Regions from separate parts of the Homo sapiens genome. Here all the other regions are linked to region 3. Evidence: fine-mapped expression QTL. A gene starts in region 3. Each other region holds a variant in brackets. All regions are shown on one strand. Distances are between the middles of the regions. Region 1 overlaps LOC124903279 (a long non-coding RNA gene). Region 2 holds the start of LOC124903279 (a long non-coding RNA gene). Region 3 holds the start of TTC5 (tetratricopeptide repeat domain 5). Region 4 holds the start of OR11H4 (olfactory receptor family 11 subfamily H member 4).

Region 1 (8,113 bases), 46 kb after region 3:
CTTTGGCTGATGCAACAGTTTGAGTCACTGTCTCTCTGTGCTGTGGGATCCACTCACTTTTAATGGGGAGTTGATGGAATCACTCCTCCCTCCCCCACCCTGACTTCCTCCTCTAATTGGCTCTCAGGGGACTCCAACTCCTGCTAATCAACCATGGCAGAGCTGCTGCAGAGAGCCCGAAACTGGCACTCAGGGACCTAGGTTCTGTTGTGACTCTGCTCCTTCAACTTTCTTTTCTAATCTGTTAAAACAACTTTGCCTTTGGATTAGGCCTGGGAGAATGGGGTTCCTTTGGGCATTGCCTTTGCAGAGACAGTTTTAATAATGCCAGCATCTTCTAGACTTTGCCAACTATTGTGTTCAGCTTGAATCTTTTTATTCATGGTGGCAGAGAGGGGAAAAGATTAGGTATCTGTTTCATGTGTCCACAGTGGGGGAGGCAAATGATAGGAGAAAAGAGAAGATGAAAGAGCATATCATTTGAGGAATGTGAGCCTCAACATATTGGTCCACATACTGCTTCTCTATTAGCAAAAGGCCTTGTGGAAAACTTACCTTGTCTGCTTCTGTTTGTCACTGCCCAGAGGAAAGTAAACCTAGTTGTGCAGCTTTGGCCAATATTATTATTGGGTTACATTTAAAAAAGTTATTTTAAAAATAGGCTTTGTCTTTTAAAGCAGTTTCAGGTTCACAGCAATATTGAATAGAAAGTACAGAGGGTTTCTATATACCTCTTCACCAACCTTATGCCCAACCTTCCCCATTATCAATGTCCCATCCCAGAGTGGTACACTTCCTATAATTCATGAGCCTACATTGACACATCCTTATCACTCCAAGTCCATGGTTTATATTGGAGTTCACTCTTAGTGTTGTACATTTTATGGGTTTTGACAAATGTATACTGACATGTATTTATTAAACTATCATACAGAATCGTTTCATTGCTGTACAATCCTATGTGTTCTACCTGTGTGTCCTTATCTCCCCTCCTCCCTCACCCCTGGAAACCACTATCTTTTTTCATTTTTTAATTAAAAATTTTTTTTTCTTATGCCTCCCAGGGCTTCCTTGCTAGAAACCACTATCTTTTTACTGTTTCTATACTTTTGCCTTTTTCAGAATGTCATAAAATTGGAATCAGAGTATGTACCTTTTCAGGTTGACTCCTTACTCCATGGATTACCTTTCAAAATGGACATTTAAAAATAATTTTAGAATGATACTAAAGCTACAATAGAGGGTAAGTGTATCTATGGCATACCCAAGCATATTTGTGTAACCTCTTTTTTGGGGGTTGGGGGAACAGGGTCTCGCTCTGTTATTCAGGTTAGAGTTCAGTGGAATGATCATAGCTCACTGCACCCATAAACTCGTGGTCTTAAGCAATCCTCCTACCTCAGTCTCCCACATAGCTGGGACATTAGCCACCAAGCCTGGCTAATTTAAAAAAAATTCTTAGTAGAGGCCGGGTGCAGTGGCTCACACCTGTAATCCCAGCACTTTGGGAGGCCGAGGCAGGCGGATCATGAGGTCAGGAGATCGCGACCATCCTGGCTAACACGGTGAAACCCCGTCTCTACTAAAATACAAAAAAAAAATTAACCGGGCTTGGTGGTGGGCACCTGTAGTCCCAGCTACTGGGGAGGCTGAGGCAGGAGAATGGCGTGAACCCGGGAGGCGGAGCTTGCAGTGAGCCGAGATCGCACCACTGCACTCCAGCCTGGGTGGCAGAACGAGACTCCATCTCAAAAAAAAAAAAAAAAATTATTAGTAGAGATGAGGTCTTACTATGTTAACCAGGCTGGTCTCAAACTCTTGGATTCAAGTGATCCTCCTGCCTCAATCTCCCAAAGTGCTGTGATTATAAGTGTGAGCCACTGTGCCTGGCCTGTAACCTTTGTTTTGACAAATGGATAGTATTAAAGGAAATTTTCTTGATACGCAGTTTAGTCTGTTCTTGGACAAGCAATGCAGTAGGTTTGACTTTGAGTGCTTTATTACTAACACTTTCTGGCCAGGCCACAGTTAAGGTCCGGTTGGAAAACACTTGTTGAGGTTTGAATTGTAACCTTTTTACTGGATGATAGGGTATTTTTTAGCCCATAGATAAACTTGCTTAAAAAACCAAGAAAGACACTGAAATCTCAGTCTATACATAGTTTCATCAGTGTTTATTGGGAACTGTGTTCTGGATAAAGCAATCGTATGTATACATTTTTATTATGTAATGTATAAGTGATTTGTAAATTATAAAGATCTCCTACGATACTGTGGTGTCTTCTAGATAGAAAATATATCTTTCTAAAATGTGTGCCTAATTCTAGTGTAGTGTCAATTTATAGTACACAATAAATATTTAATGAATAAACATTATTCTGTTGTTGATTACAATTCTCTGAACGCATATTTTTCTATACCTGCTTACTTTAGATTTATAAGATTAGATTCTCACATTTTTTTCATGCATTTACATATTTATATTGATAGGATAAACAAACAAACAAACAGAAAAAGCTTCATGGTCCTGTTTATCTTTGCTCAGGGCAGGATGGCTGTAGAGGAGGTTACACCAGAATCTCAGCAGATAAATATAGAAATAGATCCAGGGTGATGGGATTTTAGAGCATGGTCCCACTGAATGGGAGAGTACATAGTTGGCCAGTGTGGATACGGAAAAAGCAATGCTTCCCAGGATATATGGAATCCCAGTGAGGGGATAAGCCCCCTATCCTTTTCATTTTCTCCAGTTTTGCTTCTCTTTGTACTCCTTTTCTGGTGTGGTCATTTTCTGTTTGCCCTGCCAGATGGTTGAACTATTGGGAGGGAGAACTATATCCTTCCTTTTATTTATTTGCCTGTTGCTGTAGCACAGGCAAGCAAAGAGGAAAACTTTACTTCCTAAAGTCATAAGTGTTTATGGGACACCTTCTCTAGTATTGGATATAGCCATACAAGGGTTTGAAGATGAATAAGGTCATACAGCTGGTAAGTGGTAAGCCTAGGCTTAAGTCTGGGTCTCTTGCCACCAAGTCAGTACTTTTATGCCAGGCTGTTTTGTGGGGTTATTATGTCAAAGTAGGAAAGTGAAAATAATTGCTTTCTTATTTAAACCCATGAAAATATAATGCAAGAAAGATTAAATTCTGTTTAGATTAGTGAATACAGTGCCTAATTCTTCTTGAGTGTTTAGATTTAATTTTTCAATGCAGTTTTTTCATGTATTTGATGTTTATACTTTCCTGTTTTATAGAAAAATATATAATTGAGGATAAAACTGTGTTAATCTAGCCTTTTAGTAAACCACTTCTTTGGATTTCTAGTTATACTGTTAGAACATAACCAGTGTGGTAGTTTTCTTAATATTATCTTTCAAGACCCTAGGAAAAAGTAAGCAGCCAAAGTCAAACCTCAGAATGATGGCAAATTTTATTCTAAAAAATATGAGAAGATCTTATTAAACCAAGGGGTAAATTGAGTTGGTGGTTGTAGTAAATACTATTATGAAAAATAGAAGGCTGGACATGGTGGCTCACACCTGTAATCCCAGCACTTTGGGAGGCTGAGGTGGGAGGATCGCTTGAGCTCAGGAGTTTAAGACTAGCCTGGGCAACATAAGGAGACCCTGTCTCTATGAAAAAATACAAAAAAAAAATTAGCTGGGCATTGTGGTGTGTGCCTGAAATCCCAGTTACTTGGGAAGCTAAAGTGGAAGGATTGCATGAGCCTAAGAGTTGGAGGCTGTAGTGAGCAATGATCACACCACTGCACTCCAGCCTGGGTGACAGAGAGAAACCCTGTCTCAAAAAAAAAAAAAAAAAAAAAAAATGCTTGCCCAGGGATGGCATGTTTAGAGAACTGAGGAGAGCACAGAATTAGAATAATACAGACAAGTTGTATTGGATAGGATCAACCTCTCAAGAGTGTTCATAAAGTTTTCCTTTATTTATTTATTTTTTAAGACAGAGTCTCACTCTGTCGCCCAGACTGGAGTGCAGTGGCACAATCTTGGCTCCCTGCAACCTCCACCTCCTGGGTTCAAGTTATTCTCCTACCTCAGCCTCCTAAATAGCTGGGATTACAGGCGTGCACCACCATGCCTGGCTAATTTTTGCATTTTTAGTAGAGATGTGGTCTCACCATGTTGGCCAAGCTGGTCTTGAACTCCTGACCTCAAATGATCCACCCACCTTGACCTCCCAAAGTACTGGGATTACAGGCATGAGCCACTGTGCCCAGCCGAGTTCATAAAGTTTTAAAGCTCTAAATATATTCATCTTTAAGAACAATTCTTGGAGGAGAAACTGAATTAGAGTAACTTAATTTCACCAGGATATTATAGAGATTCATCAACTGAACAGACGTGCTGTTCTTTAAGGCAGTGCTTAGAAAATGGTACATTAAGAAAATGATGTTTGACATAGTGGAGTAAACTAGAAGGGATTTGGAGGCATCTGTATAGATTTTGTTGAAAAATGTCTTATTTTTTTATTAGAAGAAAAATATAACAATATGATTAAATTCATAACAAAAATTCAAATGTATTAAATTTTAAATTTCTATAAAATTTGTAAATAAAATATTTTCCTTTTTTTCTTTTTTTTTCTTTTCACTGACCACATCTACTTGGACCAAATTTTCAATAAAAACTTTCAGCTTGTTTATATATATGTAAGTTTATTTATTTATTTATTTATTTAGATGGAGTTTTGCTCTGTGGCCCAGGCTGGAGTGCAGTG[A/G]TAACGATCTTGGCTCACTGCAACCTCTGCCTCCCAGGTTCAAGCGATGCTCCTGCCTCAGCCTCCCAAGTACCTGGGACTATAGGTGCACACCACCATGCCTGGCTAATTTTTGTATTTTTAGTAGAGACGGGGTTTCATATATTGCCAGGCTGCTCTTGAACTCATGACCTCAATTGATTCACCCCCCTCGCCCTCCAAAAGTGCTGGGATTACAGGCATGAGCCACTGTGCCTGGGCATAAATTTTAAATATGTAACTTTTAATACTAGTTTTTTTGCTTGGTTTGGTTCATACAATTCCTGATAGAAACTTCAAGTAATGATCTCTTCAACTTCTAGATAATCACCAGTGATGAGAAGTTTTCTTTGCAATGTACATGGTAGCAAGTGGTAGAAGGTATATATTGCCTTTTCTATATTTTTATATTTTACTATAATAATAGTTGGACATCTTTCTATTAATGAGAGCTTGGATAAATCAGTTTTTATGGATTGTGCTTAGGGTGTGATTATGCCTTAAGTCTCATAGCTCTTCTTTTCCTGTCATTGACAAATGTAATGTTAAAGGGTCTTGTGAGGAAACTTTTAACAGTACATTAATAGTGAATCAAACTTTCTTATATCAAGTATAAAAAAATGGCTAAGATTTCCCTCAAGCATATACCAGTATTGCTCTACTAGTCTTAATAAATCTTCAGGATTCAAATAATAAACCTGACTAAACATTACTAGTGAACCACTGTTTTTTGTTTGTTAGTTTTTTTGAAACAGAGTCTCTCGGTCTGTCGCCCAGGTTGGAGTGCAGTGGCATGGTCTCTACTCACTGTGACCTCTGGCTCCTGGGCTCAAGCCACTTTTGTGCCTCTTGAGTAGCTGGGACTGCAGATGTGTGCCACCACGCCCAGCTAATTTTTTGTTTGTTTGTTTTTGTAGAGATGGGGTTTTGCCATCTGGCCAGGCTGGTTTTGAACTCTTGAGCTCAAGTGATCCGTACACCTTGGCCTCCCAAAGTGTTGGGATTACAGGTGTGAACCACCACACCCAGCCTAGTAAACCACTTTAAGCTTACTTTTTAAAAGTTGTCTTTTGTTTTGAATCTATATACATTTTCAGTACATTAATATAATTAATGTAGGCCTTGGTATTTTTGAATGAGATCATTCAGGTGATCAGAAATATCAGGTAAGCCATTTTTTTAAAAAATAAACTTTTATTTTGGAATAATTTTATATTTACAGAAAAATTTCAAAGATAATATAGAGAATCTCCACATATTCCTTACCAGTTTCCCCCACTGTTAACAACTTCTATTTCCATCTCCATGGTACATTAAGAAGCTAACTACTTAACTAACATGTTGTTAGTAACTAAATTCCAGATTTTATTTGGATTTCACCAATTTTCCATTAATGCCCTTTCTTTCTTTCAGGATCTGATCCAGTGTACAACATTTCATTTAGATGTCATGTCTCTCCATCCGAGTCTGTGAAAGTTTCTGTCTTTTCTTGTTTTTTTTATGACCTTGACAGTCCAGAGGAGTATTGTGTAGAATGATCCCCATTCAGGGTTTGATGTTTTTCTGCATGATTAGACTGTAGTAATGGATTTTGGGGAAACAGACCATGCAGATGAAGTGCCTTTCTCAATACATCTGTATTAGTCAATTTTCGCACTGCTATAAAGAAATACCTGGGACTGCATAATTTATAAATAAAAGAGGTTTAATTGGCTCATGGTCTTGCAGGCTTCACAGGAAGCACAATGGCTTCTGGGGAGGCTTCAGGAAACTTTGGCGGAAAGCGAAGGAGAAGCAGGCATGTTTTAGATGGTTGGAGCAGAAGGAAGAGAGAGAGAGAGAGGGCAGAGGTGCTATACACTTTTCAACAACCAGATCTCATAAAAAACTCTTATCATGAGAACAGCACCAAAGGGAGAATTCTGCCTTCATGATCTTACCAACTCCCACCAGGCCCCACCTCCAACACTGGGGATTACAATGCGACATGAGATGTGGGTGGGGACACAAATCCAAACCATATCAGCATCATATCAGAGGTAAACAATATCACATGACATCACTGGTGATGTTAGTCTTCATCACTTGGTCAATGTAGTGTTTGCCATGTTTCGCCACTCTAAAGTTACTATTTTCCCTTTTCCCTAATATTCTTAGGAAGTAAGTCACTAAGTCTAGGCCACCTTTGGGGAAAGGGGATTAAGCTCCACCTCCTGGGGGAGTATATACATACATTATTTGGAAGTCATCTGTAAGGAAAATTTGTCTCCCCTTTTCTGTTTATTTATTCAGTCATTTATTAACACCAGTGTGTACTTACATATATTTATTTCATAGTTTGGGTTATAATCCAATACTACCCTATTATTTTCTTGCTCAAATTGTGCCAGCTGATCTTGAGAGCTCTTTTAGATTGGCTCTTGTATCACCTTCATGTGTTTCTATCCTTTTGAGTTTTGAGTACTTTTTGGTACTACAAAATTCGCTGGGTTCATTCTGTATTTTCCTTGTCCCAGCCCTAGAAACAGTCATTTCTTGAAGGAGCCCTACTACCTTTTATTGGAGAATGGTATTTTAAAACCAAGATCTGGGTGCTGAGTGCTTATTGCTTCTAGGCACTTTTGGCAGACAAAACTACATAATATATGTCTTTATACATATATTATGCATGTACATACACGTGTCCATACTTATTTCTATATCTGTGTATATATTACACTAAATATGAATTTATAAGGGTGTCTCTGACTCTAACCAGTAGCACAGAGTTTATTCTTGCTTTGTTTTCTTGCTTTACTGTAATGTCTCTCTTTGATGGGCTGGTAGGCTGCTGAAAGATGGCCATCCCAAGATGTCTATATTATAATTTCTGTAACTTTTAGATGTGTTACTTCACATGGCAAAAGAGAGTTCACATATATTATTAGGCTAAAGATCTTGTAATGTGGGAGTTTATCCTGAATTATCTGGGTGGGTCAATGTCATTACAGGAGTCCTTATTAGAGAGAGGCAGGAGGGTTGAAGACAAAGAAGGCAATGTGATAACTAAAGGGGGGAGGGAGGGAGGGATGGAAGGAGGGAGAGAGAGAAAGAGAGAGAGAGAGAGATATGAAGAGAGATACTAAGATTAGAAGATCCTATGCTGCTAGATTTGAAGATGGAGGAACAGGCCATTAGCTAAAGAATGTAGGTGGGCTCTAGAAGCTGGCAAAGTCAAAGAAAACAGATTCTCCAGAGCATCAAGAGGCAACCTGGACGTCTTTACTTTAGTGAGGCTGATTCTGGACTTCTGACTTCCAGAACTACAGGATAATGAATAAGTGTTTGTTGTTTTAAGCCACTAAATTGGTGGTAAT
Region 2 (8,113 bases), 34 kb after region 3:
TCATCAAATCTAAGAGTTTTTTAATAAAAGTATTTAGGGTTTTGTAGGTATAAGATTATATCATCAGTGAACAGAGATATTGTGTTGGTGCAAAAGTAATTGTGGCAAATGGCAAAAATTGCAATTACTTTTGCACCAACCCAATAGTTTGACTTCTTGTTTTCCAATTTGGATGCTGATATAGTTTGGATGTTTGTTCCTTCCAAGTCTCATATTGAAATGTAATCCTCAATGATAGAGGTGGGGCCTGGTGGGAGGTGCTTGTGTCATGGGGGTGGATCCCTTCTGGATGGCTTGGTGCTGTCCTTGAGATAGTGAGTTCTTGTGAAATCTGACTGTTTGAAAGTGTGTGGCACCTCCCCACCACTCTCTGTTCCTGCTCTTGCCATGTGATGTGACTGCTCCCACTTCACTTTCTGCCATGATTGTAAGGTTTCTGAAGACTTCACCAGAAGCAGGTGCTGGAGCCATGCTGATACAGCCTTCAGAACTCTGAACCAATTATACCTCTTTTCTTTATAAATTACCCAGTTTCAGGTATTTATAGCAATGCAAGAATGGCCTAACAGAAAACTGGTATCAGGAGTGGGGCATCGCTATAAAGATACCTGAAAATGTGGAAGCAACTTTCAACTGGGTAATGGGCGGAGGTTGGAAGAGTTTAGAGGGCTCAGAAGACAGGAAGATAAGGGAAAGTTTGGAACTTCTCAGAGACTGGTTCAATGGTTGTGACCAAAATACTGGTACCCAAGACTGGGTAATTTGTAAAAAAAAGAGGTTTAATTGACTCACCATTCAGCATGGCTGGGGAGGCCTCCGAAACTTACAATCATGGTGGAAGGGGAAGCAAACACGTCCTTCATCACATGGTGGCAGGAAGGAGAATGAGAATTCAGCAAAGGGGGAAGCTCCTTATACAACCATGAGACCTTGTGAGCACTAACTCACTATTATGAGAACAGGATGGGGGAAACTGCCCCCATGATTCAATTATCTCCAGGTTCCTCCCATGACACGTGGGAACTAAAATTCAAGATGAGAGTTAGGTGAGGACATAGCCAAACTGTATCATTCCACCCCTCACCCCTCCTAAATCTCATGTCCTCACATTTCAAAACCGAATCATGCCCTTCCAATAGTCCCCCAAAGTCTTAACCCATTTCAGAGTTAACTCAAAAGTCCGAGTCCAAAGTGTCATCTGAGACAACACGAGTAAGTCCCTTTTGCCTATGAGCCTGTAAAATCAAAAGGAAGTTAGTTACTTCCTAGATAGAATGTGGGTACAGGCATTGAGTAAATACACCCATTCCAAGTGGGAGAAGTTGGCCAAAACAAAGGGGTTACAGGCCCCATGCAAGTCTGAAATCCAATAGGGCAGTCATTAAACCTTAAAGTTCCAAAATAATCTCCTTTGACTTCATGTCTCATATTCAGGTCAGGGTGATGCAAGAGGTGGGCTCCCACAGCCTTGGGAAGGTCTGCCCCTGTGGTTTTGCAGGGTAAAGCCCCCCTCCTGGCTGCTTTCATGGGCTGGCATTGAGTGTGCAAGCTGCTGGTGGATCTGCCATTCTGGGATCTGGAGGACTGTGGCCCTCTCCACACAGCTTCATTAGGGAGTGTCCTGGGGGGACCCTGTGTGGGGTCTCTGGCCCCACATTTCCCTTCTGCACTGCCCTAGCAAAGGTTTTCCCTGAGAACTCCACCCCTGCAGCAAACTTCTACCTGGACATCCAGGCATTTCCATACATCTTCTGAAATCTAGGTGGAGGTTCCCAAACCTCAATTCTTGACTTCTGTGCACCCCCAGGCCCAACACCATATGTATGCCACCAAGACTTGGGGCTTGCACCCTCTGAAGCAATGGCCTGAGCTCCACATTAGCCCCGTGTAGCCATGGCCAAGACACACGGCACCAAGTCCCTAGACTGCACATAGCATCAAGGCCCTAGGCCTGGCCCACAAAACCGTTTTTTTCTTCTAGTCCTCTGAGCCTGTGATGGGAGAGCCTGCAGTGAAGACCTCTTACATGCCCTGGAGACATTTTCCCCGTTTCCTTGGTGATTAACATTTGGCTCCTCGTTACTTATGCATATTTCTGTAGCCAGCTTGAATTTCTCCTCAGAAAGTGGGTTTTTCTTTTTTATTGCATTGTCAGGCTGCAAATTTTCTGAACTTTTATGCTCTGCTTCCCTTTTAAACGTAAGTTCCAATTCCAAACCATATCTTCATGAATACATAAAACTGAATGCTTTTAACAGCACCCGAGTTACCTTTTGAATGCTTTGCTTCTTGGAAATTCCTTCCACCAGATGCCCTAAATCATCTCTCTCAAGTTCAAAGTTCCACAGATCTCTAGGGCAGGGGCAAAATGCTGCCAGTCTCTTTGCTAAAACATAGCAAGAGTCACTTTTACTCCAGTTCCCAACAAATTCCTCATCTCTTTCTGAGACCACTTCAGCCTGGACTTCATTGTCCATATCACTATAGCATTTTGATCAAAGCCATTCAACAAGCCTCCAGGCAATTCCAAACTTTCCCACATCTTCCTGTCTTCTTCTGAACCCTCCACACTGTCCCAACTTCTGCCTGTTACCCAGTTCCAAACTCGCTTCCACATTTTTGGATATCTTTACAGTAGTGCCCCACTCTCAGGTACCAATTTACTGTATTAGTCTGTTTTCATGCTGCTAATAAAGACATATCTGAGACTGGATAATCTATAAAGGAAGGAGGTTTAATTGACTCACAGTTCTGTATGGCTAGGGAAGCCTCAGGAAACTTACAATTATGGCAGAAGGGGAAGAAAACATGTCCTTCTTCACATGGCAGCAGGAAGGAGAATGAGAATCCAGCAAAGGGGGAAGCCCCTATTAAAACCATCAGATCTTGTAAAACTTACTATCATGAGAACAGAATGGGGAAAACCACCCCCATGATTTAATTATCTCCACCTGGTCCCTCCCACAATATGTAGGGATTATGGGAACTACACTTCAAGATGAGATTTGGGTGAAGACAGCCAAACCATATCAGTCTCAGATGGAAATAAGGAATTTATTGGGAACTGGAGTAGAGGTCACCCATGTTACACCCTAGCAAAGAACTTGGCTGTATTATGTTCATGTCATAGGGATCTGTGGAAGTTTGAAGTTAAGAGTGATAACTTAGGGTATGAAGTGAATGACATTTCTAAGCAGCAATTGTTTAAGATATGGCCTGGCTGCTTTTAACAGCCTATGATCAGATGTGGGAGCAAAATTACTTAAAGTTGGAACTTATATTTAAAAGGGAAACAGAGTGTGAAAGTTTGAAAATTTTGCAGCCTGGACATATGGCAGAGAAAGAATCCAAGCAGATTGTGGAGCAAGCACTTGCTAGAGAGATCAGCATAGATAAAAGGGAGTCAAGTGCTAATATCCAAAACAATGGGGAAAAAAGACCTTGAAGGCATTTCAGGAATCTCTGAGACAGCCTCTCCTACCACAGGTTCAGAGGCCTAGGAAGAAAGAATGGTTTCGTGGGCCAGTCCCAGAGTACTGCTGCCCTGTGCAGCTTTGTGACAGTGCTCCCTGCTTCCTGGGTGCTCCAGCTCCAGCCTTGGCTCAAAGGACCCCAAGTACTGCTCATGCTGTTGCTCTGGAGAGTGCAAGCTGCCATAAGCCTTGGTGGCCTCCATGTTTTGTTAAGTCTGTGAGCATATGGATTGCAAGAGTGAAGGAGACTTGGCAGCTTCCCCCTAGATTTCAGGGGATATATGAGAAAGTCTGGGTGCCTAGGCAGAAGCCTGCTGCAGAGGTGGAGCCCTCATGGAGAACCTCTACTAGGGTAGTGAGGAGGGTAAATGTAGGGTTGGAACCCCTACACAGAGTCGCTACCAGGGCACTGCCCACCAGATACCAAAATGATAGATCCATCAGCAGCTTGCACCCTGCTTCTGGAAAAGCCACAGACACTCAACTGCAACCTGTGGGAGCAGCTGTGAGGGCTGTACCTTGCAAAGCCACAGGGGCAGAGCTGCCCAAGACCTTGGGAGCCAATCTTTTGCATCAGTATGGGCTGGATATGGGACATGGAGTCAAAGGAGATTATTTTGGAGCTTTAAGAGTTGATGACTCCTCTGCTGAGTTTCAGACTTGTTTGGGAACTATTACCCCTTTCTTTTGGCCAATTTCTCCCTTTTGGAATGGTAATGTTTACCCAATGCCTGTACTACCATTGTATCTTGGGATTAGATAACC[C/T]GCTTTGATTTTACAGGGTCATAGGTGGAAGGAGATGAGTCTCAGTTGAGATTTCGAACTTTGGGTTTGATGCTGGAATGAGTTAAGAGTTTTGGGCACTATTGGGAGCAGATGATTATATTTTGCAATGTGAGAAGGATATTAGATTTGAGGGGCCGGAGTGGAAAGATACAGCTTTCATATTTGTCCCAATCACATCTCATATTGAAATTTAATTGCCAATGTTGTAGGTGGGGCCTGGTGGGAAGTGTTTGGGTCATGAGTGCAGATCTTTCATGAATAACTTGGTGCTTTCCTTGAGACAGTGAGTTCTCATGAAATCTGGTTGTTTAAAGAGTGTGACACTTCTCCTTCTTTCTTGCTCTCACTCTCACCAATAATATGTCTGCTTCTGCTTTACATTCTGCCATGATTGTAAAGGTTCTGAGGCTTTCGCCAGAAGCAGATGCTGGAGCCATGCTGGGACACTCTGCAGAACTCTGAGCCAAGTGAACCTCTTTTGTTTATAAATTACCTAGTCTCAGGTATTTCTTTATAGCAATGTAAGAACAGCCTAACACAGATGCCTTTTATTTCGTTCTTTTGCCTGGTTGCTCTGGCTGTGACATCTAATACTATGTTAAATAAAAGTGGTGGAAGTTGGCATCCTTGTCTTACTTAAGTTCTTAGGTGAATTGCTTTCAACTTTTCCACATTCAGTATGATGCTGGCTGTGGTTTGGCATGAAGGGGTGGGTTGCCCCTCCACACCTGTGGGTGTTTCTCATTAGGTGGAACGGGAGACTTGGAAAAGAAAAAGACACAGAGACAAAGTATAGAGAAAGAAATAAGGAGACCCAGGGGACCAGCGTTCAGCATACGGAGGATCCCGCCAGCCTCTGAGTTCCCTTAGTATTTATTGATAATTCTTGGGTGTTTCTCGGAGAGGGGGATTTGTCAAGGGTCATAGGATAATAGTGGAGAGAAGGTCAGCAGATAAACACGTGAACAAAGGTCTCTGCATCATAGACAAGGTAAAGAATTAAGTGCTGTGCTTTAGATATGCATACACATAAACATCTCAATGCCTTACAGAGCAGTATTGCTGCTGCATGTCCCACCTCCATCCCTAAGGCAGTTTCCCCCTATCTCAGTAGATGGAACATACAATCGGGTTTTATACCGAGACATTCCATTGCCCAGGGAGGGGCAGGAGACAGATGCCTTCCTCTTGTCTCAACTGCAAAGAGGCATTCCTTCCTCTTATACTAATCCTCCTCAGCACAGACCATTTACGGGTGTCGGGCTGGGGGTCGGTCAGGTCTTTCCCTTCACACGAGGCCATATTTCAGACTGTCACATGGGGAGAAACCTTGGACAATACCTGGCTTTCCTAGGCAGCGGTCCCTGCGGCCTTCCACAGTGTTTGTGTCCCTGGGTACTTGAGATTAGGGAGTGGTGATGACTCTTAACCAGCATGCTGCCTTCAAGCATCTGTTTAACAAAGCACATCTTGCACCGCCCTTAATCCATTTAACCCTGAGTGGACACAGCACATGTTTCAGAGAGCACGGGGTTGGGGGTAAGGTTATAGATTAACAGCATCCCAAGGCTGAAGAATTTTTCTTAGTACAGAACAAAATGGAGTCTCCTATGTCTACTTCTTTCTACACAGACACAGTAACAATCTGATCTCTCTTTCTTTTCCCCACATTGGCAAAAATGTCCTTTATTATTTTGAGGTATGTTTCTTCTGTCTAGTGTGTTGAGGGTTTTTATCATGAAGGGAGGCTGAATTTTATCAAATTCTTTTCCACATTTGTTGAGATGATCGTAGGGTTTTTGTTTTTTAATTCTGTCTATGTGATGAATCACATTTATTGATTTACATATGTTGAGCCATCCTTGCATCTCTGCAATAGAACCCAGTTGATCATAATGTATCATCTTTTTGATGTACTGTTGGATTTGGTTTGCTAGTATTTTGCTGAGGATTTTTGCATCTATATTCATCAGAGATATTGATCTGTAGTTTTCTTTTTTAGTTGTGTCCTTACCTGGCTTTAGTATCAAGAGGATACTGACTCCATAGAATGAATTAGGGAAGATTTTCTCCTTCTTGATATTTTGGAGCAGTTTCAGTAGGAGTGGTACCAGTCATTCTTTCTGCATTAGATAGAATTCAGCTGTGAGTTCATCTAGTTCTGGGATTTTTAGTTGTTCTTGGGAAGCTTTTTATTACTGATTCAATTTTACTACTTTTTCAAATTGTTATGTTCAGGATTTCTATTTCTTTCTGGTTTAGTCTTTTGATATAATAGTATACTTTCTCCAGAAAGTTTGTTTATGGCTTTTATTGGATTTATTCCTGGCCACTTTATAGTTTATGCTGCTATCGTAAGTAGTATCATTTTTAAGAATTAAATTTTCTAACTGTGCTTCAGAATAGAAATACAATTAGTATTTTATTTAGTTTTTGCAGCTATAGCCTTTTTAGAACTCTTTCATTCTAATAATTTGATGATTCCTTTGGGTTTTCTGTATATAAATAATGACCACTTGGGGTCTTCTGCAATCCTTTTAGCTTTTGTTTAGTTTTTTTCCCCTGTACTAGTTAGGACCTCTAGTATGCTGAATAGAAATGGTGATAGCAAGCGTCTTTGTCTTGTTTCTGTCCTTAAGGAAAATACTTTCAACATTTTCTTGTCAAATTAAGATGTTTGTTATGTGGCTTTATATACAATTGCTCTTAGACACTAAGTTTGTTATGAGCTTTTAGCAAAAATTTTAAATTTTACCTAATTTATCTTTTTCTATCTAATGCTTTTTCTGTATTTATTGACATGGCAAATGATTGTTTTCTGTTCCTTAACCTGTCAATGCAGTGAATAAGAGTACTCAACTTTCAATCAATGAATCAAATTTGTGTTATTGGTACAAACCTTACTTGGTCAAGATATACGTATTCTTTTTCTTTCTGAGACAGGATCTCTGTTGCAGGCTGGAATGCAGTGGCACAATTTTGGCTCACTGCAACCTCCACCTCGTAGATTCAAGTGATTTTCTTGCCTCGGCCTCCCAAGTAGCTGGGATTACAGGCATGCACCACCATGCCTGGCTAATTTATTTATTTATTTATTATTATACTTTAAGTTTTAGGGTACATGTGCACGATGTGCAGGTTAGTTACATATGTATACATGTGCTATGCCGGTGTGCTGCACCCACCAACCCGTCAACTAGCATTAGGTATATCTCCCAATGCTGTCCCTCCCCCCCACACCCCACAACAGTCCCCAGAGTGTGATGTTCCCTTCCTGTGTCCATGTGTTCCCATTGTTCAATTCCCACCTATGAGTGAGAATATGTGGTGTTTGGTTTTTTGTTATTGCGATAGTTTACTGAGAATGATGATTCCCAATTTCATCCATGTCCCTACAAAGGACATGAACTCATCATTTTTTATGGCTGCATAGTATTCCATGGTGTATATGTACCACATTTTCTTAATCCAGTCTATCATTGTTGGACATTTGGGTTGGTTCCAAGTCTTTGCTATTGTGAATAGTGCCGCAATAAACGTATGTGTGCACGTGTCTTTATAGCAGCATGATTTATAGTCCTTTGGGTATATACCCAGTAATGGGATGGCTGGGTCAAATGGTATTTCTAGTTCTAGATCCCTGAGGAATTGCCACACTGACTTCCACAATGGTTGAACTAGTTTACAGTCCCACCAACAGTGTAAAAGTGTTCCTATTTCTCCACATCCTCTCCAGCACCTGTTGTTTCCTGACTTTTTAATGATTGCCATTCTAACTGGTGTGAGATGGTATCTCATTGTGGTTTTGATTTGCATTTCTCTGATGGCCAGTGATGATGAGCATTTTTTCATGT
Region 3 (8,113 bases):
GGGAGAGGGAGAGGGAGAGGCAGAGGCAGAGGCAGGGGCAGGGGCAGGGTAGCAAATCTTTTTTCTAGATAGGACTCCCCAGCTTCTCTGTGCTTTTAAGTCTCTGAAGTTGTTTTCACATTATCAACATAACAAACTCATTGGCAGTGGGGAGTGGTTTAGAGTCTGGTTTCTTTGTTTCTATTATTTAAAGCATAAGCATTTTATTAGTCTCAATTCCATTGTGAACTGCTGAATTTTCATCCCTAGTGTGAGAAGGTCACAATAGTATTTGTTTCAATAGATAACTCTTTCTCCCTGTGCTGTTTCTCACTGAGCTGTGGTGTTTATGCCTTAAGTACCTGTGTTATATGCTACATGTTGCTTTGAATTCTGGTATTTATGCATATCTGTATATGTAAGTATGTTAATGTACACTGATATTTTGCTGTATTTGCCAGTATGTTTATGTGAAAATTTTGGTCTTGGAAAATGGTGGGTGATGTGTAGCTTGTTATTTGGGTGTGTGTATTTATTTGTATATATTTATGTATTTACCTTCGTATTGTTTGGAGGTGTGCTTATGTCAGTGAACGAGAGTACAATTTGATGCATGTATGTTCAGTCCCTATTTGTATTTAAAAATAACTCACGTTGATGAAGTTATTTTTTAAAGTTAATTTTTTTGGCATTTACAGTCGGTGCTCTGTATCCATAGGTTCTGCTTCTGCAGATTCAGCCAACCATATATCAAAAATATTTGAGAAAAAATAATATAAAAAAATACAAATTAAAAACCAATACTATATAACAACTATTTGGATAGCATTTACATTGTAGGTATTATAAATAATTTAGAGGTGATTTAAAGTATTTGGGAGAATCTGTAGGTTATATGCAAATACCATGCCATTTTATAAAAGTGACATGAACATCCAAGGATTTTGGTATCCATGAGGGTTCCTGGAACCAATCCCCCAAAGATACCAAAGGAAGACTGTATTTTAAAATAAAGCTACTTCTTTACCTTTTTGTCAACTATTGCCTTGGGTTTACTTATTTAGGAATGCACTTCTGCAGAAAGTTTACCAATGTGTTATTGATCTCGAGATTGTATTAAAATAAAAGATTTATTTATTGTTTTCCTTTATTTAGTGAGTATTTCTGACTATTATTATGGGAATTAAATTGTTTATGCATTTATTTATTTAAAATGTAGAGCCATGATAGAAATTTGAAGGACATTCTCAGTAACTTTATGTCCTGTTAGAGGAAAGATTTGAAAGCATACTGGCTGGAGAGGCAGAAGATCTGGGTTCTGGTTTCTACTTAGTTTGAACTTTCTTGGACTTAGTCTCTGTATCTGTAAAATGAAGGACTGAATTAAGTTATCCTTACAGCCTTTTCTAACTCTTAAATTTTAGGATTGATTCTTAATGGTTTAAGATGTGTTAACAATGGAATTACCCTAAATGTCAAATCCCATTGTTTTTTAGGTAATAAAAATTATACTGAAATCATTTGAAGATATATTTAGTCATTGTAGAAAGGCAATTAAATACCCCTGCTTTACATAATTGAAAAGCAAGTAGTGTTTCCTTCACTAGGAATATAGAGTATAAAATCTCTTAAAAATTATTCTTAATGTGCACCAAAATTATTTATTACTGTTTTTTTGAGATGGAGTCTTGCTGTGTTGCCCAGGCTGGAGTGCAGTGGCAGCATCTTGGCTCACTGCAACCTCTGCCTCCTGGGTTCAAGTGGTTCTCCTGTCTTGGCCTCCCAAGTAGCTGGGATTACAGGTGCATGCCACCACACCTGGCTAATTTTTGTATCTTTAGTAGAGATGGGGTTTTACCACATTGGCCAGGCTTGTCTTGAACTGACCTCAAGTGATCTGCCCGCCTTGGCCTCCCAAAGTGCTGGGATTACAGGTGTGAGCCACCGTGCCCAGCCTCGTGTGCACCAAAGTTAAAATGTCTGAGAAAGAGGATGAAAAATTTTAAAGTTTTAGGGCCGGGTGTGGTGGCTCACGCCTGTAATCCTAGCACTTTGGGAAGCTGAGGCGGGTGAATCATGAGGTCAGGAGATCGAGACCATCCTGGCTAACACGGTGAAATCCCGTCTCTACTAAAAATACAAAAAATTAGCCGGGCGTGGTGGTATGCACCTGTAGCCCCAGCTACTCGGGAGGCTGAGGCGGGAGAATCGCTTGAACCTGGGAGGCCGAGGTTGCAGTGAGCCGAGATGGCGCCATTGCACTCCAGCCTGGGCTACACAGTGAGACTCCATCTCAAAAAAAAATTTTTAAAACATCCCTCCCTATTTTACAGCTAACGACATAGATTTTATAGGTTACAATACAAACTATTTCCTTTATGTTGGAAAATGATTTGAGGAAATGATTTTATGTATATTCATGATTTCTGCCTTGAACGTTTTACTTCTTTGTTAGTTTCACAGAATCAGCTTGAAGCTGTAATTAAAACTAAAAAAGTAAAGCAAAACTGCCAGGAATATTACATGACACTTTAAAAGATTTATTCAGAAGTTTAATATATTCACAAGGTACAAACTTTAAAGTTACAAAAAAGGCATAGAGTGAAAAGTCTACCCCAGTTCCCTGGTCACTCATTTTTGCTCCAGCCACTCACTTCTGCTCTTTGTAAGCGATAGTCTTGCCAGTGTCTTGTGTCTCTTTCCAGAGACTATGTAGAAGCAAATAATTTTTTATTTAAAAATGTTTATATTTGAATAGGTGATACATATAGATGGCAAGAAAATTCAAAAGGGCAGGCAGTGAAAATTTTCTTCGCTCACCCACAGTTCCCCAGTTTCTGTGTTTCCCTCTGCAGAGACAGTCATCCTTTCTTATATATCCTTCTGGATGTTGTCTATAAATATGGAGGCATTGTTAGTGTAGAGCATGGTGGTTTTTATGAGCCATCCCAAGTGTAGTATTTATTAAGATAGTGCATTAAAATGATAAAATTAATCATACATAGAAAATTACTGCAAAGTTTGGAAAAGATTGAGTAAAGTAGCTATTGTACTACATGGCTTTCGAAATTTCAAACAACACAGGTGTGCACTTCTTAAACTCTCTTCTTTATGGAGTATTATAATCTTAGTATAAATAAGTAGGAAGACATGAAACAAGAATATAGAAATTAAGCTGAGGACATTTTGTTTCCAGGATCTGGGAAAGAAAGAAGTTTATGAACTCACAAGTGATTGTAGAGCATCTCTGTGGAAATAAATGGTTAAGTCGGTTTGAAGCAAAGCCCTTCTGGGGCAGAAAAGCCTCCAGAACGCCAGATGTCGCTGTGGTTCCGCGGTGAGAGAGGGCGTGCGTCTCTGTGGTTATAAAGTTGGGGGTGGAGTGGCCGGGAGATGATGGCTGATGAAGAGGAAGAAGTCAAGCCGATCTTGCAGAAATTGCAGGTGGGGCCGTAGATTAAATTCTGTATGTGTTTTTGTTACTCCGAATGAAGCAGGGAGTCCAGTTTATGTACTGCCCGTGAATTCCTCGGCACACACGCGAAGCTGCGTGCGTCTGTGTGGTTACTATAACAACCCTCGAGGGTGCAGCCGCAGCCAGCCAGGGAGCCTCGTTGGAACCTCCTGCTGCCGACCTGACTGCGGTTAATTTCAGTCCTGTATGGAAGAAGATTTGTTGCTCCTAACTGTTCATGTACATTTTTAGAGAGGACGTTGTTTTCTCGATTCATCCATAGCGAATAGCATATACATGTGTGTGGCAGATCTGCATGAACTACTGTCACATGTTGTTTTGATCCCTACAAAAGCCATTTAACACCTTTCTGCTTTGAATTTGGCAACAATCACGCTAATGACCTGCACTGCAAGTGTCCTGGTTACTCCCCTTAGGATTTCAGTTTTGATTTCTTTCAACCTGTGTAATTCCACTTTGGGGTCTGATGCAGAGGGGTCCAGACTCCACATAGTCCACAGGTAAGACTAGTCTTTTGGACTTGGTAGGGAGGCGTTAACTAGTTGCTTGGCTCTTTGCCTTTAAGAACCCATGATTTTCCTTACACCTCAGGAACTCAGTTCTTCGTTCTAAGGCAGCCTGTAACTTAAATATTAGAACTATGACAGGCTTGTAACTTGCCTAAAGGTGTTTAACGCACAAATTTAAATACTGGTGAAATTTCTTTGTTCTTGGGTACATTAAAATAGTAACACTTTTTAGAGTGTTCCAGCTGATTTGGATTAACTTCATTTTATTCCCTAACTGTGACTGGCTGAAATCAGAGATTCTCAATTCTGGTTCTATATTAGAAACATTATTTGTGTATATATGTTTGTATATGCACAGAAAAAAATCTGAAAAGGTATACAAATCAGTGGTTATCACTGAGGTTCTTTGGGGTAATTTTGTACTTTCTTTTTTTTACATGTATCTATTTGAATTTTAACAACTTACATGTATTGATTTTGCCATGAAAAAATAAGTTTCTAAAAACATTCAGTCCAGAGGAAAACAAAACCAAACAATAAAACCAAACAACTTCTTGAATGTTTGGTTTAACAACTAAAACCAATCAATAAGCCCTTCTCTAAAACTCTTAATTTGCAGCCATGTTGATTGCAGGACAAAAGGAAATTGGTTGTAATTTTTTATGAGAATTGTCTTTTCCTAGGTTCATTTGTGGTAAATGTCCTAAGCAGCTTGGGAGAGGATACTTCCGTTATCTTGGGGTGGGGTCGGTGCAGGAATGGAATAAAGGAGTGAAGTAGAGAAGAGGAAAAGGATTAGATAATGGTGTTGCTGTTCATGGAGATGGTGGTAAACTTTGATTTCATTGTTAAAGACATTTTAGTGTAAAAAGAGTGTATAAATGGATATTTCTCAAAGTGTGTTTTACAGACAGTTTCATTACAGTCATCTGGGGTGCCTGTTAAAAATGTAGAATTTTGAGTTCTGCTAAACTGTTAAAATCAGAGTCTCTGCAGGCTGGGTCTTGGATATAATACAATAAAATTTGCAGAGGGTGCTAGTCTGTTCCCTTCATTCTGGATAGGATTTTAAATTAAGTATAGCACATATGTATTTGTTAGAACAGGGATAGTTAGTTAGTTAATTCAATCAAGTGTAGTGAATTAGAGCCTATCATGTCCCAAGTCCCGTTCTGGTGCTCAGGTGTAGCTCGAAACAAAACAGATTAAAGGCCTTTCCATCCTGGAGCTTACATTTCAGTGGTGGAGGCAGACAATAGACAATTAATGATAGGCCACATGATTTTAAATAAGTATGAAGAAAAATAAGAGTATGATATAACAGTAGAGGAGAGAAGGAATGGATTCATTTGGGTTGAGTAATTAGGGAAAACCTTTCTGGAATTGATATTTGACCTAAGATCTAAATGATGATGAGGAATAAGTTATGCAGAGATCTGGAGAAAGTGTCCAGGCATAAGGTCTTCCAGGTGGGCTGAGCTTGATGGGTTTGAGAAACTGCATGAAGGCAACTCTGGCTTGAGTATTGTAGGAGAGAGAATGGTGAGAGGTGAAGTTTGTGTCAGGATGGGTGGTGGTAGGTCAGCTCATACAGTCTTCTAGGTCATGATAAGGACTTGGATTTTATTCTGTCTGCAATGGGAAACTATTTGAAGGTTTGTGATATGATGTACGTTTTTTATAAGATCACTCCCACTACAGTGAGGAGAATGGGAGAGAACAGAAACAAGATGACTGGTTAAGAAGCTCTTGCAGTCCAGGCAAGTAATGAAGCTGATGTAATCCAGGAATGGTCATAGTGGGATGGAGACAGGTGGATGAATTCAGGATGTGTTGTGAAGATTGTTGATTACACTCGAAGGGAAGTGATTATATCTTTCTGCTGCTATCTATTTAGTTTCAGGAAAGAATAGGATATCTGTTATCTGAAATGCTTAGGACTCGAAGTTTTTTGGATTTTGGATTTTTTTGAATTTTGGAATATCTGCATATACATAATGAGATAACTTGGGGATGGGACCCAAATCTAAATATGAAACTTGGTGGCTTATGCCTGTAGTCCCAGCACTTTGGGAGGCTGAGGTGGGAGCATTGCTTGAAATCAGGAGTTTGAGACCAGCCTGGGCAACCTACGAGACTCTTTTTTTTTTTTTTTTGAGACGGAGTCTTGCTCTGTTGCCAGGCTGGAGGGCAGTGGCATGATCTTGGCTCACTGCAACCTCTGCCTCCCAGGTTCAAGCGATTCTCCTGCCTCAGCCTCCCGAGTAGGTGGGACTACAGGTGTGCGCCACCATGCCTGGCTAATTTTTGTATTTTTAGTAGAGACCGGGTTTCACCATGATGGCCAGGATGGTTTCGATCTCTTCATGATCCGTCTGCCTTGGACTACCAAAGTGCTAGGATTACAGGCATGAGCCACCACGCCTGGTGACCCTGTCTTTTAAAAAAGAAAAAAAAAAAATTGTTTCATTTACACTTTATACACATAGGCTGAAAGTAATTTGATACAATATTTTTAATAATTTTGTGCCTGAAACAACGTTTTGACCGCATTTTGACTGTGTGTCAGGTGTGGAATTTTCTACTTGTGGTGTCAGCGTTTCAAAAGTTTCAGATTTTGGAGGATTTCAGATTTTTGCATTAGGGATGCTTGACCTGTAGTAGAAAAGCTTTGCCTGGTGTGACAGGAAGACTCAGAGGCATTTAAGAGGAAAGAGAATATTTATTTGTAAAAAATCCAAGGCAGCCAGAAGATGACTTGACAAAAAAATCAAACTAAACAAAACCACAATAAGCATTTAAAAGAACAAAATGCTGCAAAGATACCAAAGTTACCAAGTTCAAATTGGTATGTTTGTGGTGGAAAACAATGACTCTCTAACATGTTTATTATATTCACAAAGGTTGTGTTGTATTTTCAGATCTCAGCATATGAAAAATCAGGGATAAAATGGTTTTAGTTGAGAAGTCCAACTTTAAGGGTAAATTTCAAAGTGTTATTCTTTGAGGACCAGGACCATATAGAATGATCTTACTAACTTTTGGTTTATCTTAAGTTGCAGTGTTTCCCTCCTCATGACTGTGGTATGTGAAGTGCTTAGTCATATTAGAAGCCCTGCTGAGGCAGGGAGAGAAAATGGTCATCACAATAGAGACACTGGCATGGGACAACATGGGACCATGAGAGCTGGCCTGGGGTACTGGCTGCTTTTCCTCATGATTTGTGGCATTTTAGTAAACCTGTCCACCTGCCTATTGTGCCATTCATAGGTGAGAAAGAGAATTGGTATTTCTAGACCAAGAGCTGGTATGGCTAGCCAATTTCAAGTTTCCCTATCCAGTGATCTTTCCACTTAATGGTTCCATTGTCATACTTTTTAGGAACTCGTGGATCAGCTCTACTCATTTCGAGACTGCTATTTCGAGACACATAGTGTTGAGGATGCTGGGAGGAAGCAACAGGATGTGCAGAAGGAGATGGAGAAAACCCTACAGCAGATGGAAGAAGTAGTGGGTATGAGCCCTAGAGATTGTACAACCCCCATCCTTCAGTGAAATGTGATTGACCTTTGCTCCCTCCTCATTGACTCTTTGGTATCCTATCTGTTACTGCTATAGGGTAGTACAACGTAATACTACTTCTCAGGGCCCCTGTGCAACCTTTCATTCCCTAAGCCACTTTTCCTAAAATTTGATTATAGCAAATGGCATGAAATGAAAGAGCATACTTACTTGAACTATTGCAGTAATCTGACTTTCTGCCTCTAATTTCTTTTACTTTCAAATCCACTTATATAATACCATGGCCATGGCTATCTTTCTAAATCATTACTTCATGCATTTAACCTTATCCTCTCATCTGCCTTTTTGCTCAGGTATCTTTAAAGATTCCTGCTATTGACTAGCTGAAGTCTAACCCCCTTAACCTGGTATTTAAGTGTCCATTGTTTTACTCTGTTTTCTAACCTTATCTCTGACTAATTACTTGTAGAGGAACTTTCTGTTTCATCCAGGTTGAACTGTCTATTCTCCCATGAACATGGCCACATGTACTTCTGATTCTGTGTCTTTGTTTATATCATTTTCTAACCTGGAGGGTCTTTTCTTCTCTCTCTCTGTTTTGTTTTAACGATAACTATTTGTCCTGACT
Region 4 (8,113 bases), 67 kb after region 3:
TGAGATAGAGGAAGGCCACTGTCTCCTGCTTGCCCCTGGGAACTGAATGTCTAGGTATAAAACCCGATTGTACATTTGTTCAATTCTGAGATAGGAGAAAAACCGCCCTATGGTGGGAAGCGAGACATGTTGGCAGTAATGCTGCCTTGTTATTCTTTACTTCACTGAGATACTTGGGTGGAGAGAACTATATATCTGGCCTACGTGCACATCCAGGCATAGTACCTTCCCTTGAACTTAATTATGACATAGATTCTTCTGCTCACATGTTTTTTGCTGACCTTCTCCTTATTATCACCGTGCTCTCCTACTACATTCCTTTTTGCTGAAATAATGAATATAATAATCAATAAAAACTGAGGGAACTCAGAGGCCGGTGCCGGTGCAGGTCCTTGGTGTGCTGAGTACCGGTCCCCTGGGCTCACTGTTGTTTCTCTATACTTTGTCTCTGTGTCTTATTTCTTTTCTCAGTCTCTCGTCCTACCAGACCAGAAATACCCACAGGTGTGGAGGGGCAGGCCACCTCTCCAGACACTAGTGGCAGAACCAGACAAATTTATTTTCTTTCTTTTCCTTGGATGCTTGAGAAGACCTTTTCAGCTTTTGATTTGTTTTTCCAATGTTGATTATGGGTTTTCTAGCACAAGTTCATCAATTTTCTCTTATTTAGCACAAGTTGTTAGAAAAGACATTTTGAGGATAACTGAAAAAAATAAAATTGGTTTAGATGTTTGAACAAAACAAAATAGATTGACTGCTGCATGGAGATACAACTCCATGATAATATTTTAAAAACATCTCTAACGAACGGCAGTGTTTATTTTTATGTTTTTTACACATACTATACAAAAAGGAACTATCTTACTTTTTGTAATCAGATACCATGTAGATGAAATAAGGAAAATGATGTTTTCTATACAAAAATTTAGTTTATTTAGTGAGCTTTTTCGGTGGTGAAAACAAAGGGATTTTCTAAAAGAATCTGAGATGAAATGGGGCTTCATCTGCAATCCTATGTATTAGAATTTTGTTTACTGAAAGGAAGGTAAGGACATTTTCAAATATTTGACTAGGTATGTACTTTTCAGTAGCAACAAGTTTATGTATTTAAGAATTAAATAAAATACACAAATGTGTTTAAACAACAGTAATCTTATACTTGATTAATACTTAAAATGTGCTGATTAAGTCTTAAAAAAGTGGTAGTTTTGGCTGGGCGTAATGTCTTATGCCTATAGTTCCAGCAATTTGAGAGGCCAAAGTGGGTAGATCGCTGAAGTCAGGAGTTTGAGACCAGCTTGGCCAACATGGTGAAAACCCTTGTCTGCTAAAAATACAAAAATTAGCTGGGTGTGGTGGTGCGTGCCTGTAATCCCAGCTACTTGGGAGGCCAAGCAGAAGAATTGCTTGAACTCAGGAGGTGGAGGTTGCAGTGAGCCGAGATCACACCATTGCACTCCAGCCTGGGTGACAGAGCGAGACTCCACCTCAAAAAAAAAAAAAAAAGAAGGTAGTTTCAATATTGAGTTTCTTGTTAAGTTTAGATCTCTTGTCTTGTTTATTGCAGGTCACCAGTCATAACTTTGTCAGAAATGTAAAAGAAAAATGTGAAAGGCAACAAAGAACACAGAAGTTGAAGGAAGGATCAGGTATTCTTGGGAACGAAGATTTGAATCTCAACATCACTAGTTCTTTGGTAGTTTTTAAGGATGCATAAAAAGGGAAATTTGGAGCATCTGAGTTCTAAAGTTGTCCAGCTTTCCAATCAATGCTGAATTTAAAAGGCATTTGTTTACCATCTTCCTTGAATAAGGTGCTCAATAGGTGATTTCCAGATTGTTGTTTACGAAGCATAAATACATCCCTTTCTCTGCTATACACAGGTCAGAGAACAAGTCCAGGCTCAGACTTAAATTGGGAACCAGAATTGTGAGATCTGAGCCTCCCGCCCTTTGTTCTGAATGCCTGCTTGATGAGAATAACAGTTTAGGACATTCTCCATTATACACTGACAACTTTACACTACACTTCGTCTTTTCTACTACCCTACTCTGCAAGTGCTTTATTAGCAGCAACATTGTTTTTTCTGAAGCCTTTGGAGAAGTGTAGATAAGTAATGGAATGATCAAAAGCTGGGGAGCTTAATAGAAAGACCCGAGTAATCAATTTCAGAGTTTTCGCATTGACGGAATAAACTGTTTCCACAAAGTTTTATATAACACCACCCTCCAAAGTCTCCAAAACGCTGTCTGGGAATAGTTAGGTAATTAGAATAGAATCTTCATTATTTTATGACACAAACATACTGTTTCTCCTGATTTTTGAGATATATCATTATTTGAGCTACAATCCTAGGAGACCAGCTCTTTCTTTTTCTTTTTCTTTTTTTTTTCTGAGACAGTCTCGCTCTGTCGCCGAGGCTGGAGTGCAGTGGCGCGATCTCGGCTCACTGCAAGCTCCACCTCCCGGGTTCACGCCATTCTTCTGCCTCAGCCTCCTGAGTAGCTGGGACTATAGGCGCCCGCCATCACGCCCGGCTAATTTTTTGTATTTTTAGTAGAGACGGGGTTTCGCCGTGTTAGCCAGGATGGTCTGGATCTCCTGACCTCGTGATCGGACTGCCTCGGCCTCCCAAAGTGGTGGGATTACAGGCATGAGCCACCGCGCCCGGCCGAAACCAGCTCTTTCATGTACTGTACTCCTTTCCAGTACAAGAAACTACCAACCAACCAATCAACCCACCAGTCCACCTACCATAAGTGTGATAGCTTGATTTAATAGCCTTCTGTTGAATGCCCCTCACTTAGTATATTGTCTTCCCAGGTGTCCTGAGAGAAGGAACACACCACCTGATTATTCCTGGAAAGTAAGATTGTTTTCAGAAAGATGGTTGTTAATGACCATAAAATCATAGAATTAGAAGAAATGGTATAATGATCTAACTTCATTTTACAAATGAGGCTCAGAGAGGGGCATGACTTTTTACCCAATAAATATGTGTCCTGGATTCACATATGGAACTTTTATACTATACTATTATACTGCCTCCTTTGAGTCTTTGCAGAGAAACAGTGCCTAATCAGATTTATAAAGTCAAAGAGACTCTGTAGCATATCATAGCAGTGGTTTCTTACCTACAATCATGGCTTTTCTGGCTCAGT[T/A]TGGAGACAGCGGTGCGCACGGCAGAAATGAGGCAGAATTGAGCATAACCTCAGCATCAAGCATCTCCTCTTCACTGGCTCTGTTGAGGAAAACTCCAGGTGAGGGCATTATATGTGGTTTATTGCCCTGCCTTCATTCCTGGAGACTCCAGAGGCTTTTCTCAGAATTTGCTGAGAGGTTTAACATGCGAATCAGTATTACATCTATGTTTTCACTCAGGGATTACTGTAAAGCCCTGTGTTTCTCCCCATATGGTTTCAGTGGCTTACCCAAGTTTCCCTGGAGTGCGTTCTCTTTCCAACACTGGGGCTCATCTATAATATATACAATAGATAGTATATATATATTTATATATAATAGATAGTATATATATTTATATATAATATATATACTATATATAGATTATATATAATATATAATAAATATATATAATTTATATAATATATGTAATATATATAATATATATTTATAATAAATATATATAATGTAATATTATATATAATATTATATACTATATATTATATATAGTATATATTTATATACTATATAGTGTATGTTATACATAGTATATATTTATATAGTATATATATTTATATATTTATATAATTATATTTTTATATATTTATAAATTATATATTATATTTATATAGAATATATAATTATATATTATATATTTATTTATATATAAATATATAAATTTATATATTTATTTATATATAAATATATAAATTTATATATTATAAATTAAGAATTATATAATTATATAATTATAATTATATAATTTAGATAATTATACTATATATTTATATAGTATATATTTATGTAGCATATATATACCATCTATTATATATACTATATAAATATACATAGTATATATTTATATATAATATATATTATATATAATATATATAATATATATAATATGTATATAATATGTATTATATATAATATATAATATATTATGTATAATACGTATTATATATAATATATAATATATTATATATAATATGTAATATATTTATATATATAATATGTAATATATAATATATTCTATATTATATATAATATATTCTATATTATATATAATATATTCTATATTATATATAATATATTCTATATTATATATAATATATTCTATATTATATATATAGTATATATATAGTATATATATATATATAGTATATATACTATATATAATATAGTATAAATAGTATATATACTATATATACTATATAGTATGTATAGTATATATAGTATATATATTTATATTAAAGATATATACTATAAAGTATATATATTTATATTAAAGATATATACTATAAAGTATATATCTTTATATACTTTATATATATTATATATAATATATTATATATATTTGATAATATATATATTTTAAATATATTATATATATAATATATGTATATAAATATAAATATAAATATATAAAATATATATAGATATATTTATATCTATATGAATATATACTATATAGTATATGTATAATATATAGTATATATTTTATATATGCGATATATAATATGTAGTATATATTTTATATATGTGGTATATAATATATAGTATATATTTTTTATATGCTACATATAATATATAGTACATATTTTATATGTGCCACATATAATATATAGTACATATTTTATATGTGCCACATGTAATATATAGTACATATTTTATATGTGCCACATGTAATATATAGTACATATTTTATATGTGCCACATGTAATATATAGTATATATTTTATATGTGCCACGTGAAATATATAGTATATATTTTATATGTGCCACGTGATATATATCGTATATATTTTATATGTGCCACGTGTAATATATGGTAGATATTTTATATGTGCCACGTGTAATATATGGTATATATTTTATATGTGCCACGTGTAATATATGGTATATATTTTATATGTGCCACGTGTAATATATGGTATATATTTTATATGTGCCACGTGTAATATATGGTATATATTTTATATGTGCCACGTGTAATATATGGTATATATTTTATATGTGCCATGTGTAATATATGGTATATATTTTATATGTGCCAAATGTAACATATGGTATATATTTATATATGCTATATATAATATATGGTATATATATTATATATAATATATAATATATATACCATATATTATATATAAATATATTTACTATATAATATATAAATATATATAGTATATATAATATATAAATATATATAGTACATATAAGATATAAATATATATACTATATATTTATATATAATATATAAATATATATACTATATATAAGATATAAATATATATACTATATATTTATATATAATATATAAATATATATACTATATATTTATATATAATATATAAATATATATACTATATATTTATATAATATAAATATATATACTATATGTTTATATATAAGATATAAATATATATACTATATATTTATATATAATATATATACTATATATTTATATATAATATATAAATATATATACTATATATTATATATAATATATATACTATATATTCATATATATACTATATATTTATATATAATATATAAATATATATACTATATATTTATATATAATATATAAATATATAGCTTGAGGAGCCAAGATGGCCGAATAGGAACAGCTCCGGTCTAGAGCTCCCAGCGTGAGCGACGCGGAAGACGGGCCATTTCTGCATTTTCATCTGAGGTACCGGGTTCATCTCACTAGGGAGTGCCAGACAGTGGGTGCAGGTCAGTGGGTGCGCGCACCGTGCGTGAGCCGAAGCAGGGAGAGGCATTGCCTCACTTGGAAAGCGCAAGGGGTCAGGGAGTTCCCTAAGTCAAAGAAAGGGGTGACGGACGGCACCTGGAAAATTGGGTCACTCCCACCCGAATACTGCGTTTTTCCGACAGGCTTAAAAAATGGCACACCACGAGATTATATCCCGCACCTGGCTCGGAGGGTCCTACGCCCACGGTGTCTCGCTGATTGCTAGCACAGCAGTCTGTGATCAAACTGCAAGGCGGCAGCGAGGCTGGGGGAGGGGCGCCCGCCATTGCCCAGGCTTGCTTAGCTAAACAAAACAGCCGGGAAGCTCGAACTGGGTGGAGCCCACCACAGCTCAAGGAGGCCTGCCTGCCTCTGTAGGCTCCACCTCTGGGGGCAGGGCACAGACAAACAAAAAGACAGCAGTAACCTCGGCAGACTTAAATGTCCCTGTCTGACAGCTTTGAAGAGAGCAGTGGCTCTCCCAGCACGGAGCTGGAGATCTGAGAACGGGCAGACTGCCTCTTTAAGTGGGTCCCTGACCCCTGACCCCTGACCCCTGAGCAGCCTAACTGGGAGGCACCTCCCAGCAGGGGCACACTGACACCTCACACGGCAGGGTATTCCAACAGACCTGCAGCTGAGGTTCCTCTCTGTTAGAAGGAAAACAAACAGAAAGGACATCCACACCAAAAACCCATCTGTACATCACCATCATCAAAGACCAAAAGTAGATAAAACCACAAAGATGGGGAAAAAACAGAATGGAAAAACTGGAAACTCTAAAAAGCAGAGTGCCTCTCCTCCTCCAAAGGAATGCAGTTCCTCACCAGCAACGGAACAAAGCTGGATGGAGAATGACTTTGACGAGCTGAGAGAAGAAGGCTTCAGATGATCAAATTACTCTGAGCTACGGGAGGACATTCAAACCAAAGGCAAAGAAGTTGAAACCTTTGAAAAAAATTTAGAAGAATGTATAACTAGAATAACCAATACAGAGAAGTGCTTAAAGGAGCTGATGGAGCTGAAAACCAAGGCTCGAGAACTACGTGAAGAATGCAGAAGCCTCAGGAGCCGATGTGATCAACTGGAAGAAAGGGTATCAGTGATGGAAGATGAAATGAATGAAATGAAGCGAGAAGGGAAGTTTAGAGAAAAAAGAATAAAAAGAAATGAGCAAAGCCTCCAAGAAATATGGGACTATGTGAAAAGACCAAATCTATGTCTGATTGGTGTACCTGAAAGTGATGGGGAGAATGGAACCAAGTTGGAAAACACTCTGCAGGATATTATCCAGGAGAACTTCCCCAATCTAGCAAGGCAGGCCAACGTTCAGATTCAGGAAATACAGAGAACACCACAAAGATACTCCTCGAGAAGAGCAACCCCAAGACACATAATTGTCAGATTCACCAAAGTTGAAATGAAGGAAAAAATGTTAAGGGCAGCCAGAGAGAAAGGTCGGGTTACCCTCAAAGGGAAGCCCATCAGACTAACAGCAGATCTCTCGGCAGAAACCCTACAAGCAGAAGAGAGTTGGGGCCAATATTCAACATTCTTAAAGAAAATAATTTTCAACCCAGAATTTCATATCCAGCCAAACTAAGCTTCATGAGTGAAGGAGAAATAAAATACTTTACAGACAAGCAAATGCTGAGAGATTTTGTCACCACCAGGCCTGCCTTACAAGAGCTCCTGAAGGAAGCACTAAACATGGAAAGGAACAACTGGTACCAGCCGCTGCAAAATCATGCCAAAATGTAAAGACCATCGAGACTAGGAAGAAACTGCATCAACTAACGAGCAAAATAACCAGCTAACATCATAATGACAGGATCAAATTCACACATAACAATGTTAACTTTAAATGTCAATGGACTAAATGCTCCAATTAAAAGACACAGACTGGCAAATTGGATAAAGAGTCAAGACCTATCAGTGTGCTGTATTCAGGAAACCCATCTCACGTGCAGAGTCACACATAGGCTCAAAATAAAAGAATGGAGGAAGATCTACCAAGCAAATGGAAAACAAAAAAAGGCAGGGGTTGCAATCCTAGTCTCTGATAAAACAGACTTTAAACCAACAAAGATCAAAAGAGACAAAGAAGGCCATTACATAATGGTAAAGGGATCAATTCAACAAGAAGAGCTAACTATCCTAAATATATATGCA

The links. PIP is the estimated chance that this variant, and not a neighbour inherited with it, causes the effect.
Region 1: its variant is fine-mapped to the expression of TTC5 in monocytes (BLUEPRINT, PIP 0.95).
Region 2: its variant is fine-mapped to the expression of TTC5 in whole blood (INTERVAL, PIP above 0.99).
Region 4: its variant is fine-mapped to the expression of TTC5 in whole blood (TOPMed, PIP above 0.99).

What each region holds. Positions count from the first base shown.
Region 1 is chr14:20,254,743-20,262,855 of GRCh38, reverse strand. LOC124903279 (a long non-coding RNA gene) reads left to right here. Exons shown (of 2, transcript XR_007064057.1): 1 at 1-1,243; 2 at 6,171-6,471. Among named protein-coding and RNA genes, the nearest start is that of OR11H4, 20 kb to the right of the region's middle. The variant A/G (reference allele first, on the strand shown) is at 4,740.
Region 2 is chr14:20,266,739-20,274,851 of GRCh38, reverse strand. LOC124903279 (a long non-coding RNA gene) reads left to right here and starts at 5,957. Exons shown (of 2, transcript XR_007064057.1): 1 at 5,957-8,113. The variant C/T (reference allele first, on the strand shown) is at 4,239.
Region 3 is chr14:20,301,197-20,309,309 of GRCh38, reverse strand. It overlaps TTC5 (tetratricopeptide repeat domain 5), which reads left to right and starts at 3,359. Exons shown (of 10, transcript NM_138376.3): 1 at 3,359-3,423; 2 at 7,345-7,477. The coding sequence starts at 3,373. RefSeq lists a silencer at 233-433 and an enhancer at 3,214-3,453.
Region 4 is chr14:20,233,973-20,242,085 of GRCh38, reverse strand. OR11H4 (olfactory receptor family 11 subfamily H member 4) reads right to left here and starts at 2,800. Exons shown (of 2, transcript NM_001004479.2): 1 at 2,755-2,800. The variant T/A (reference allele first, on the strand shown) is at 3,162.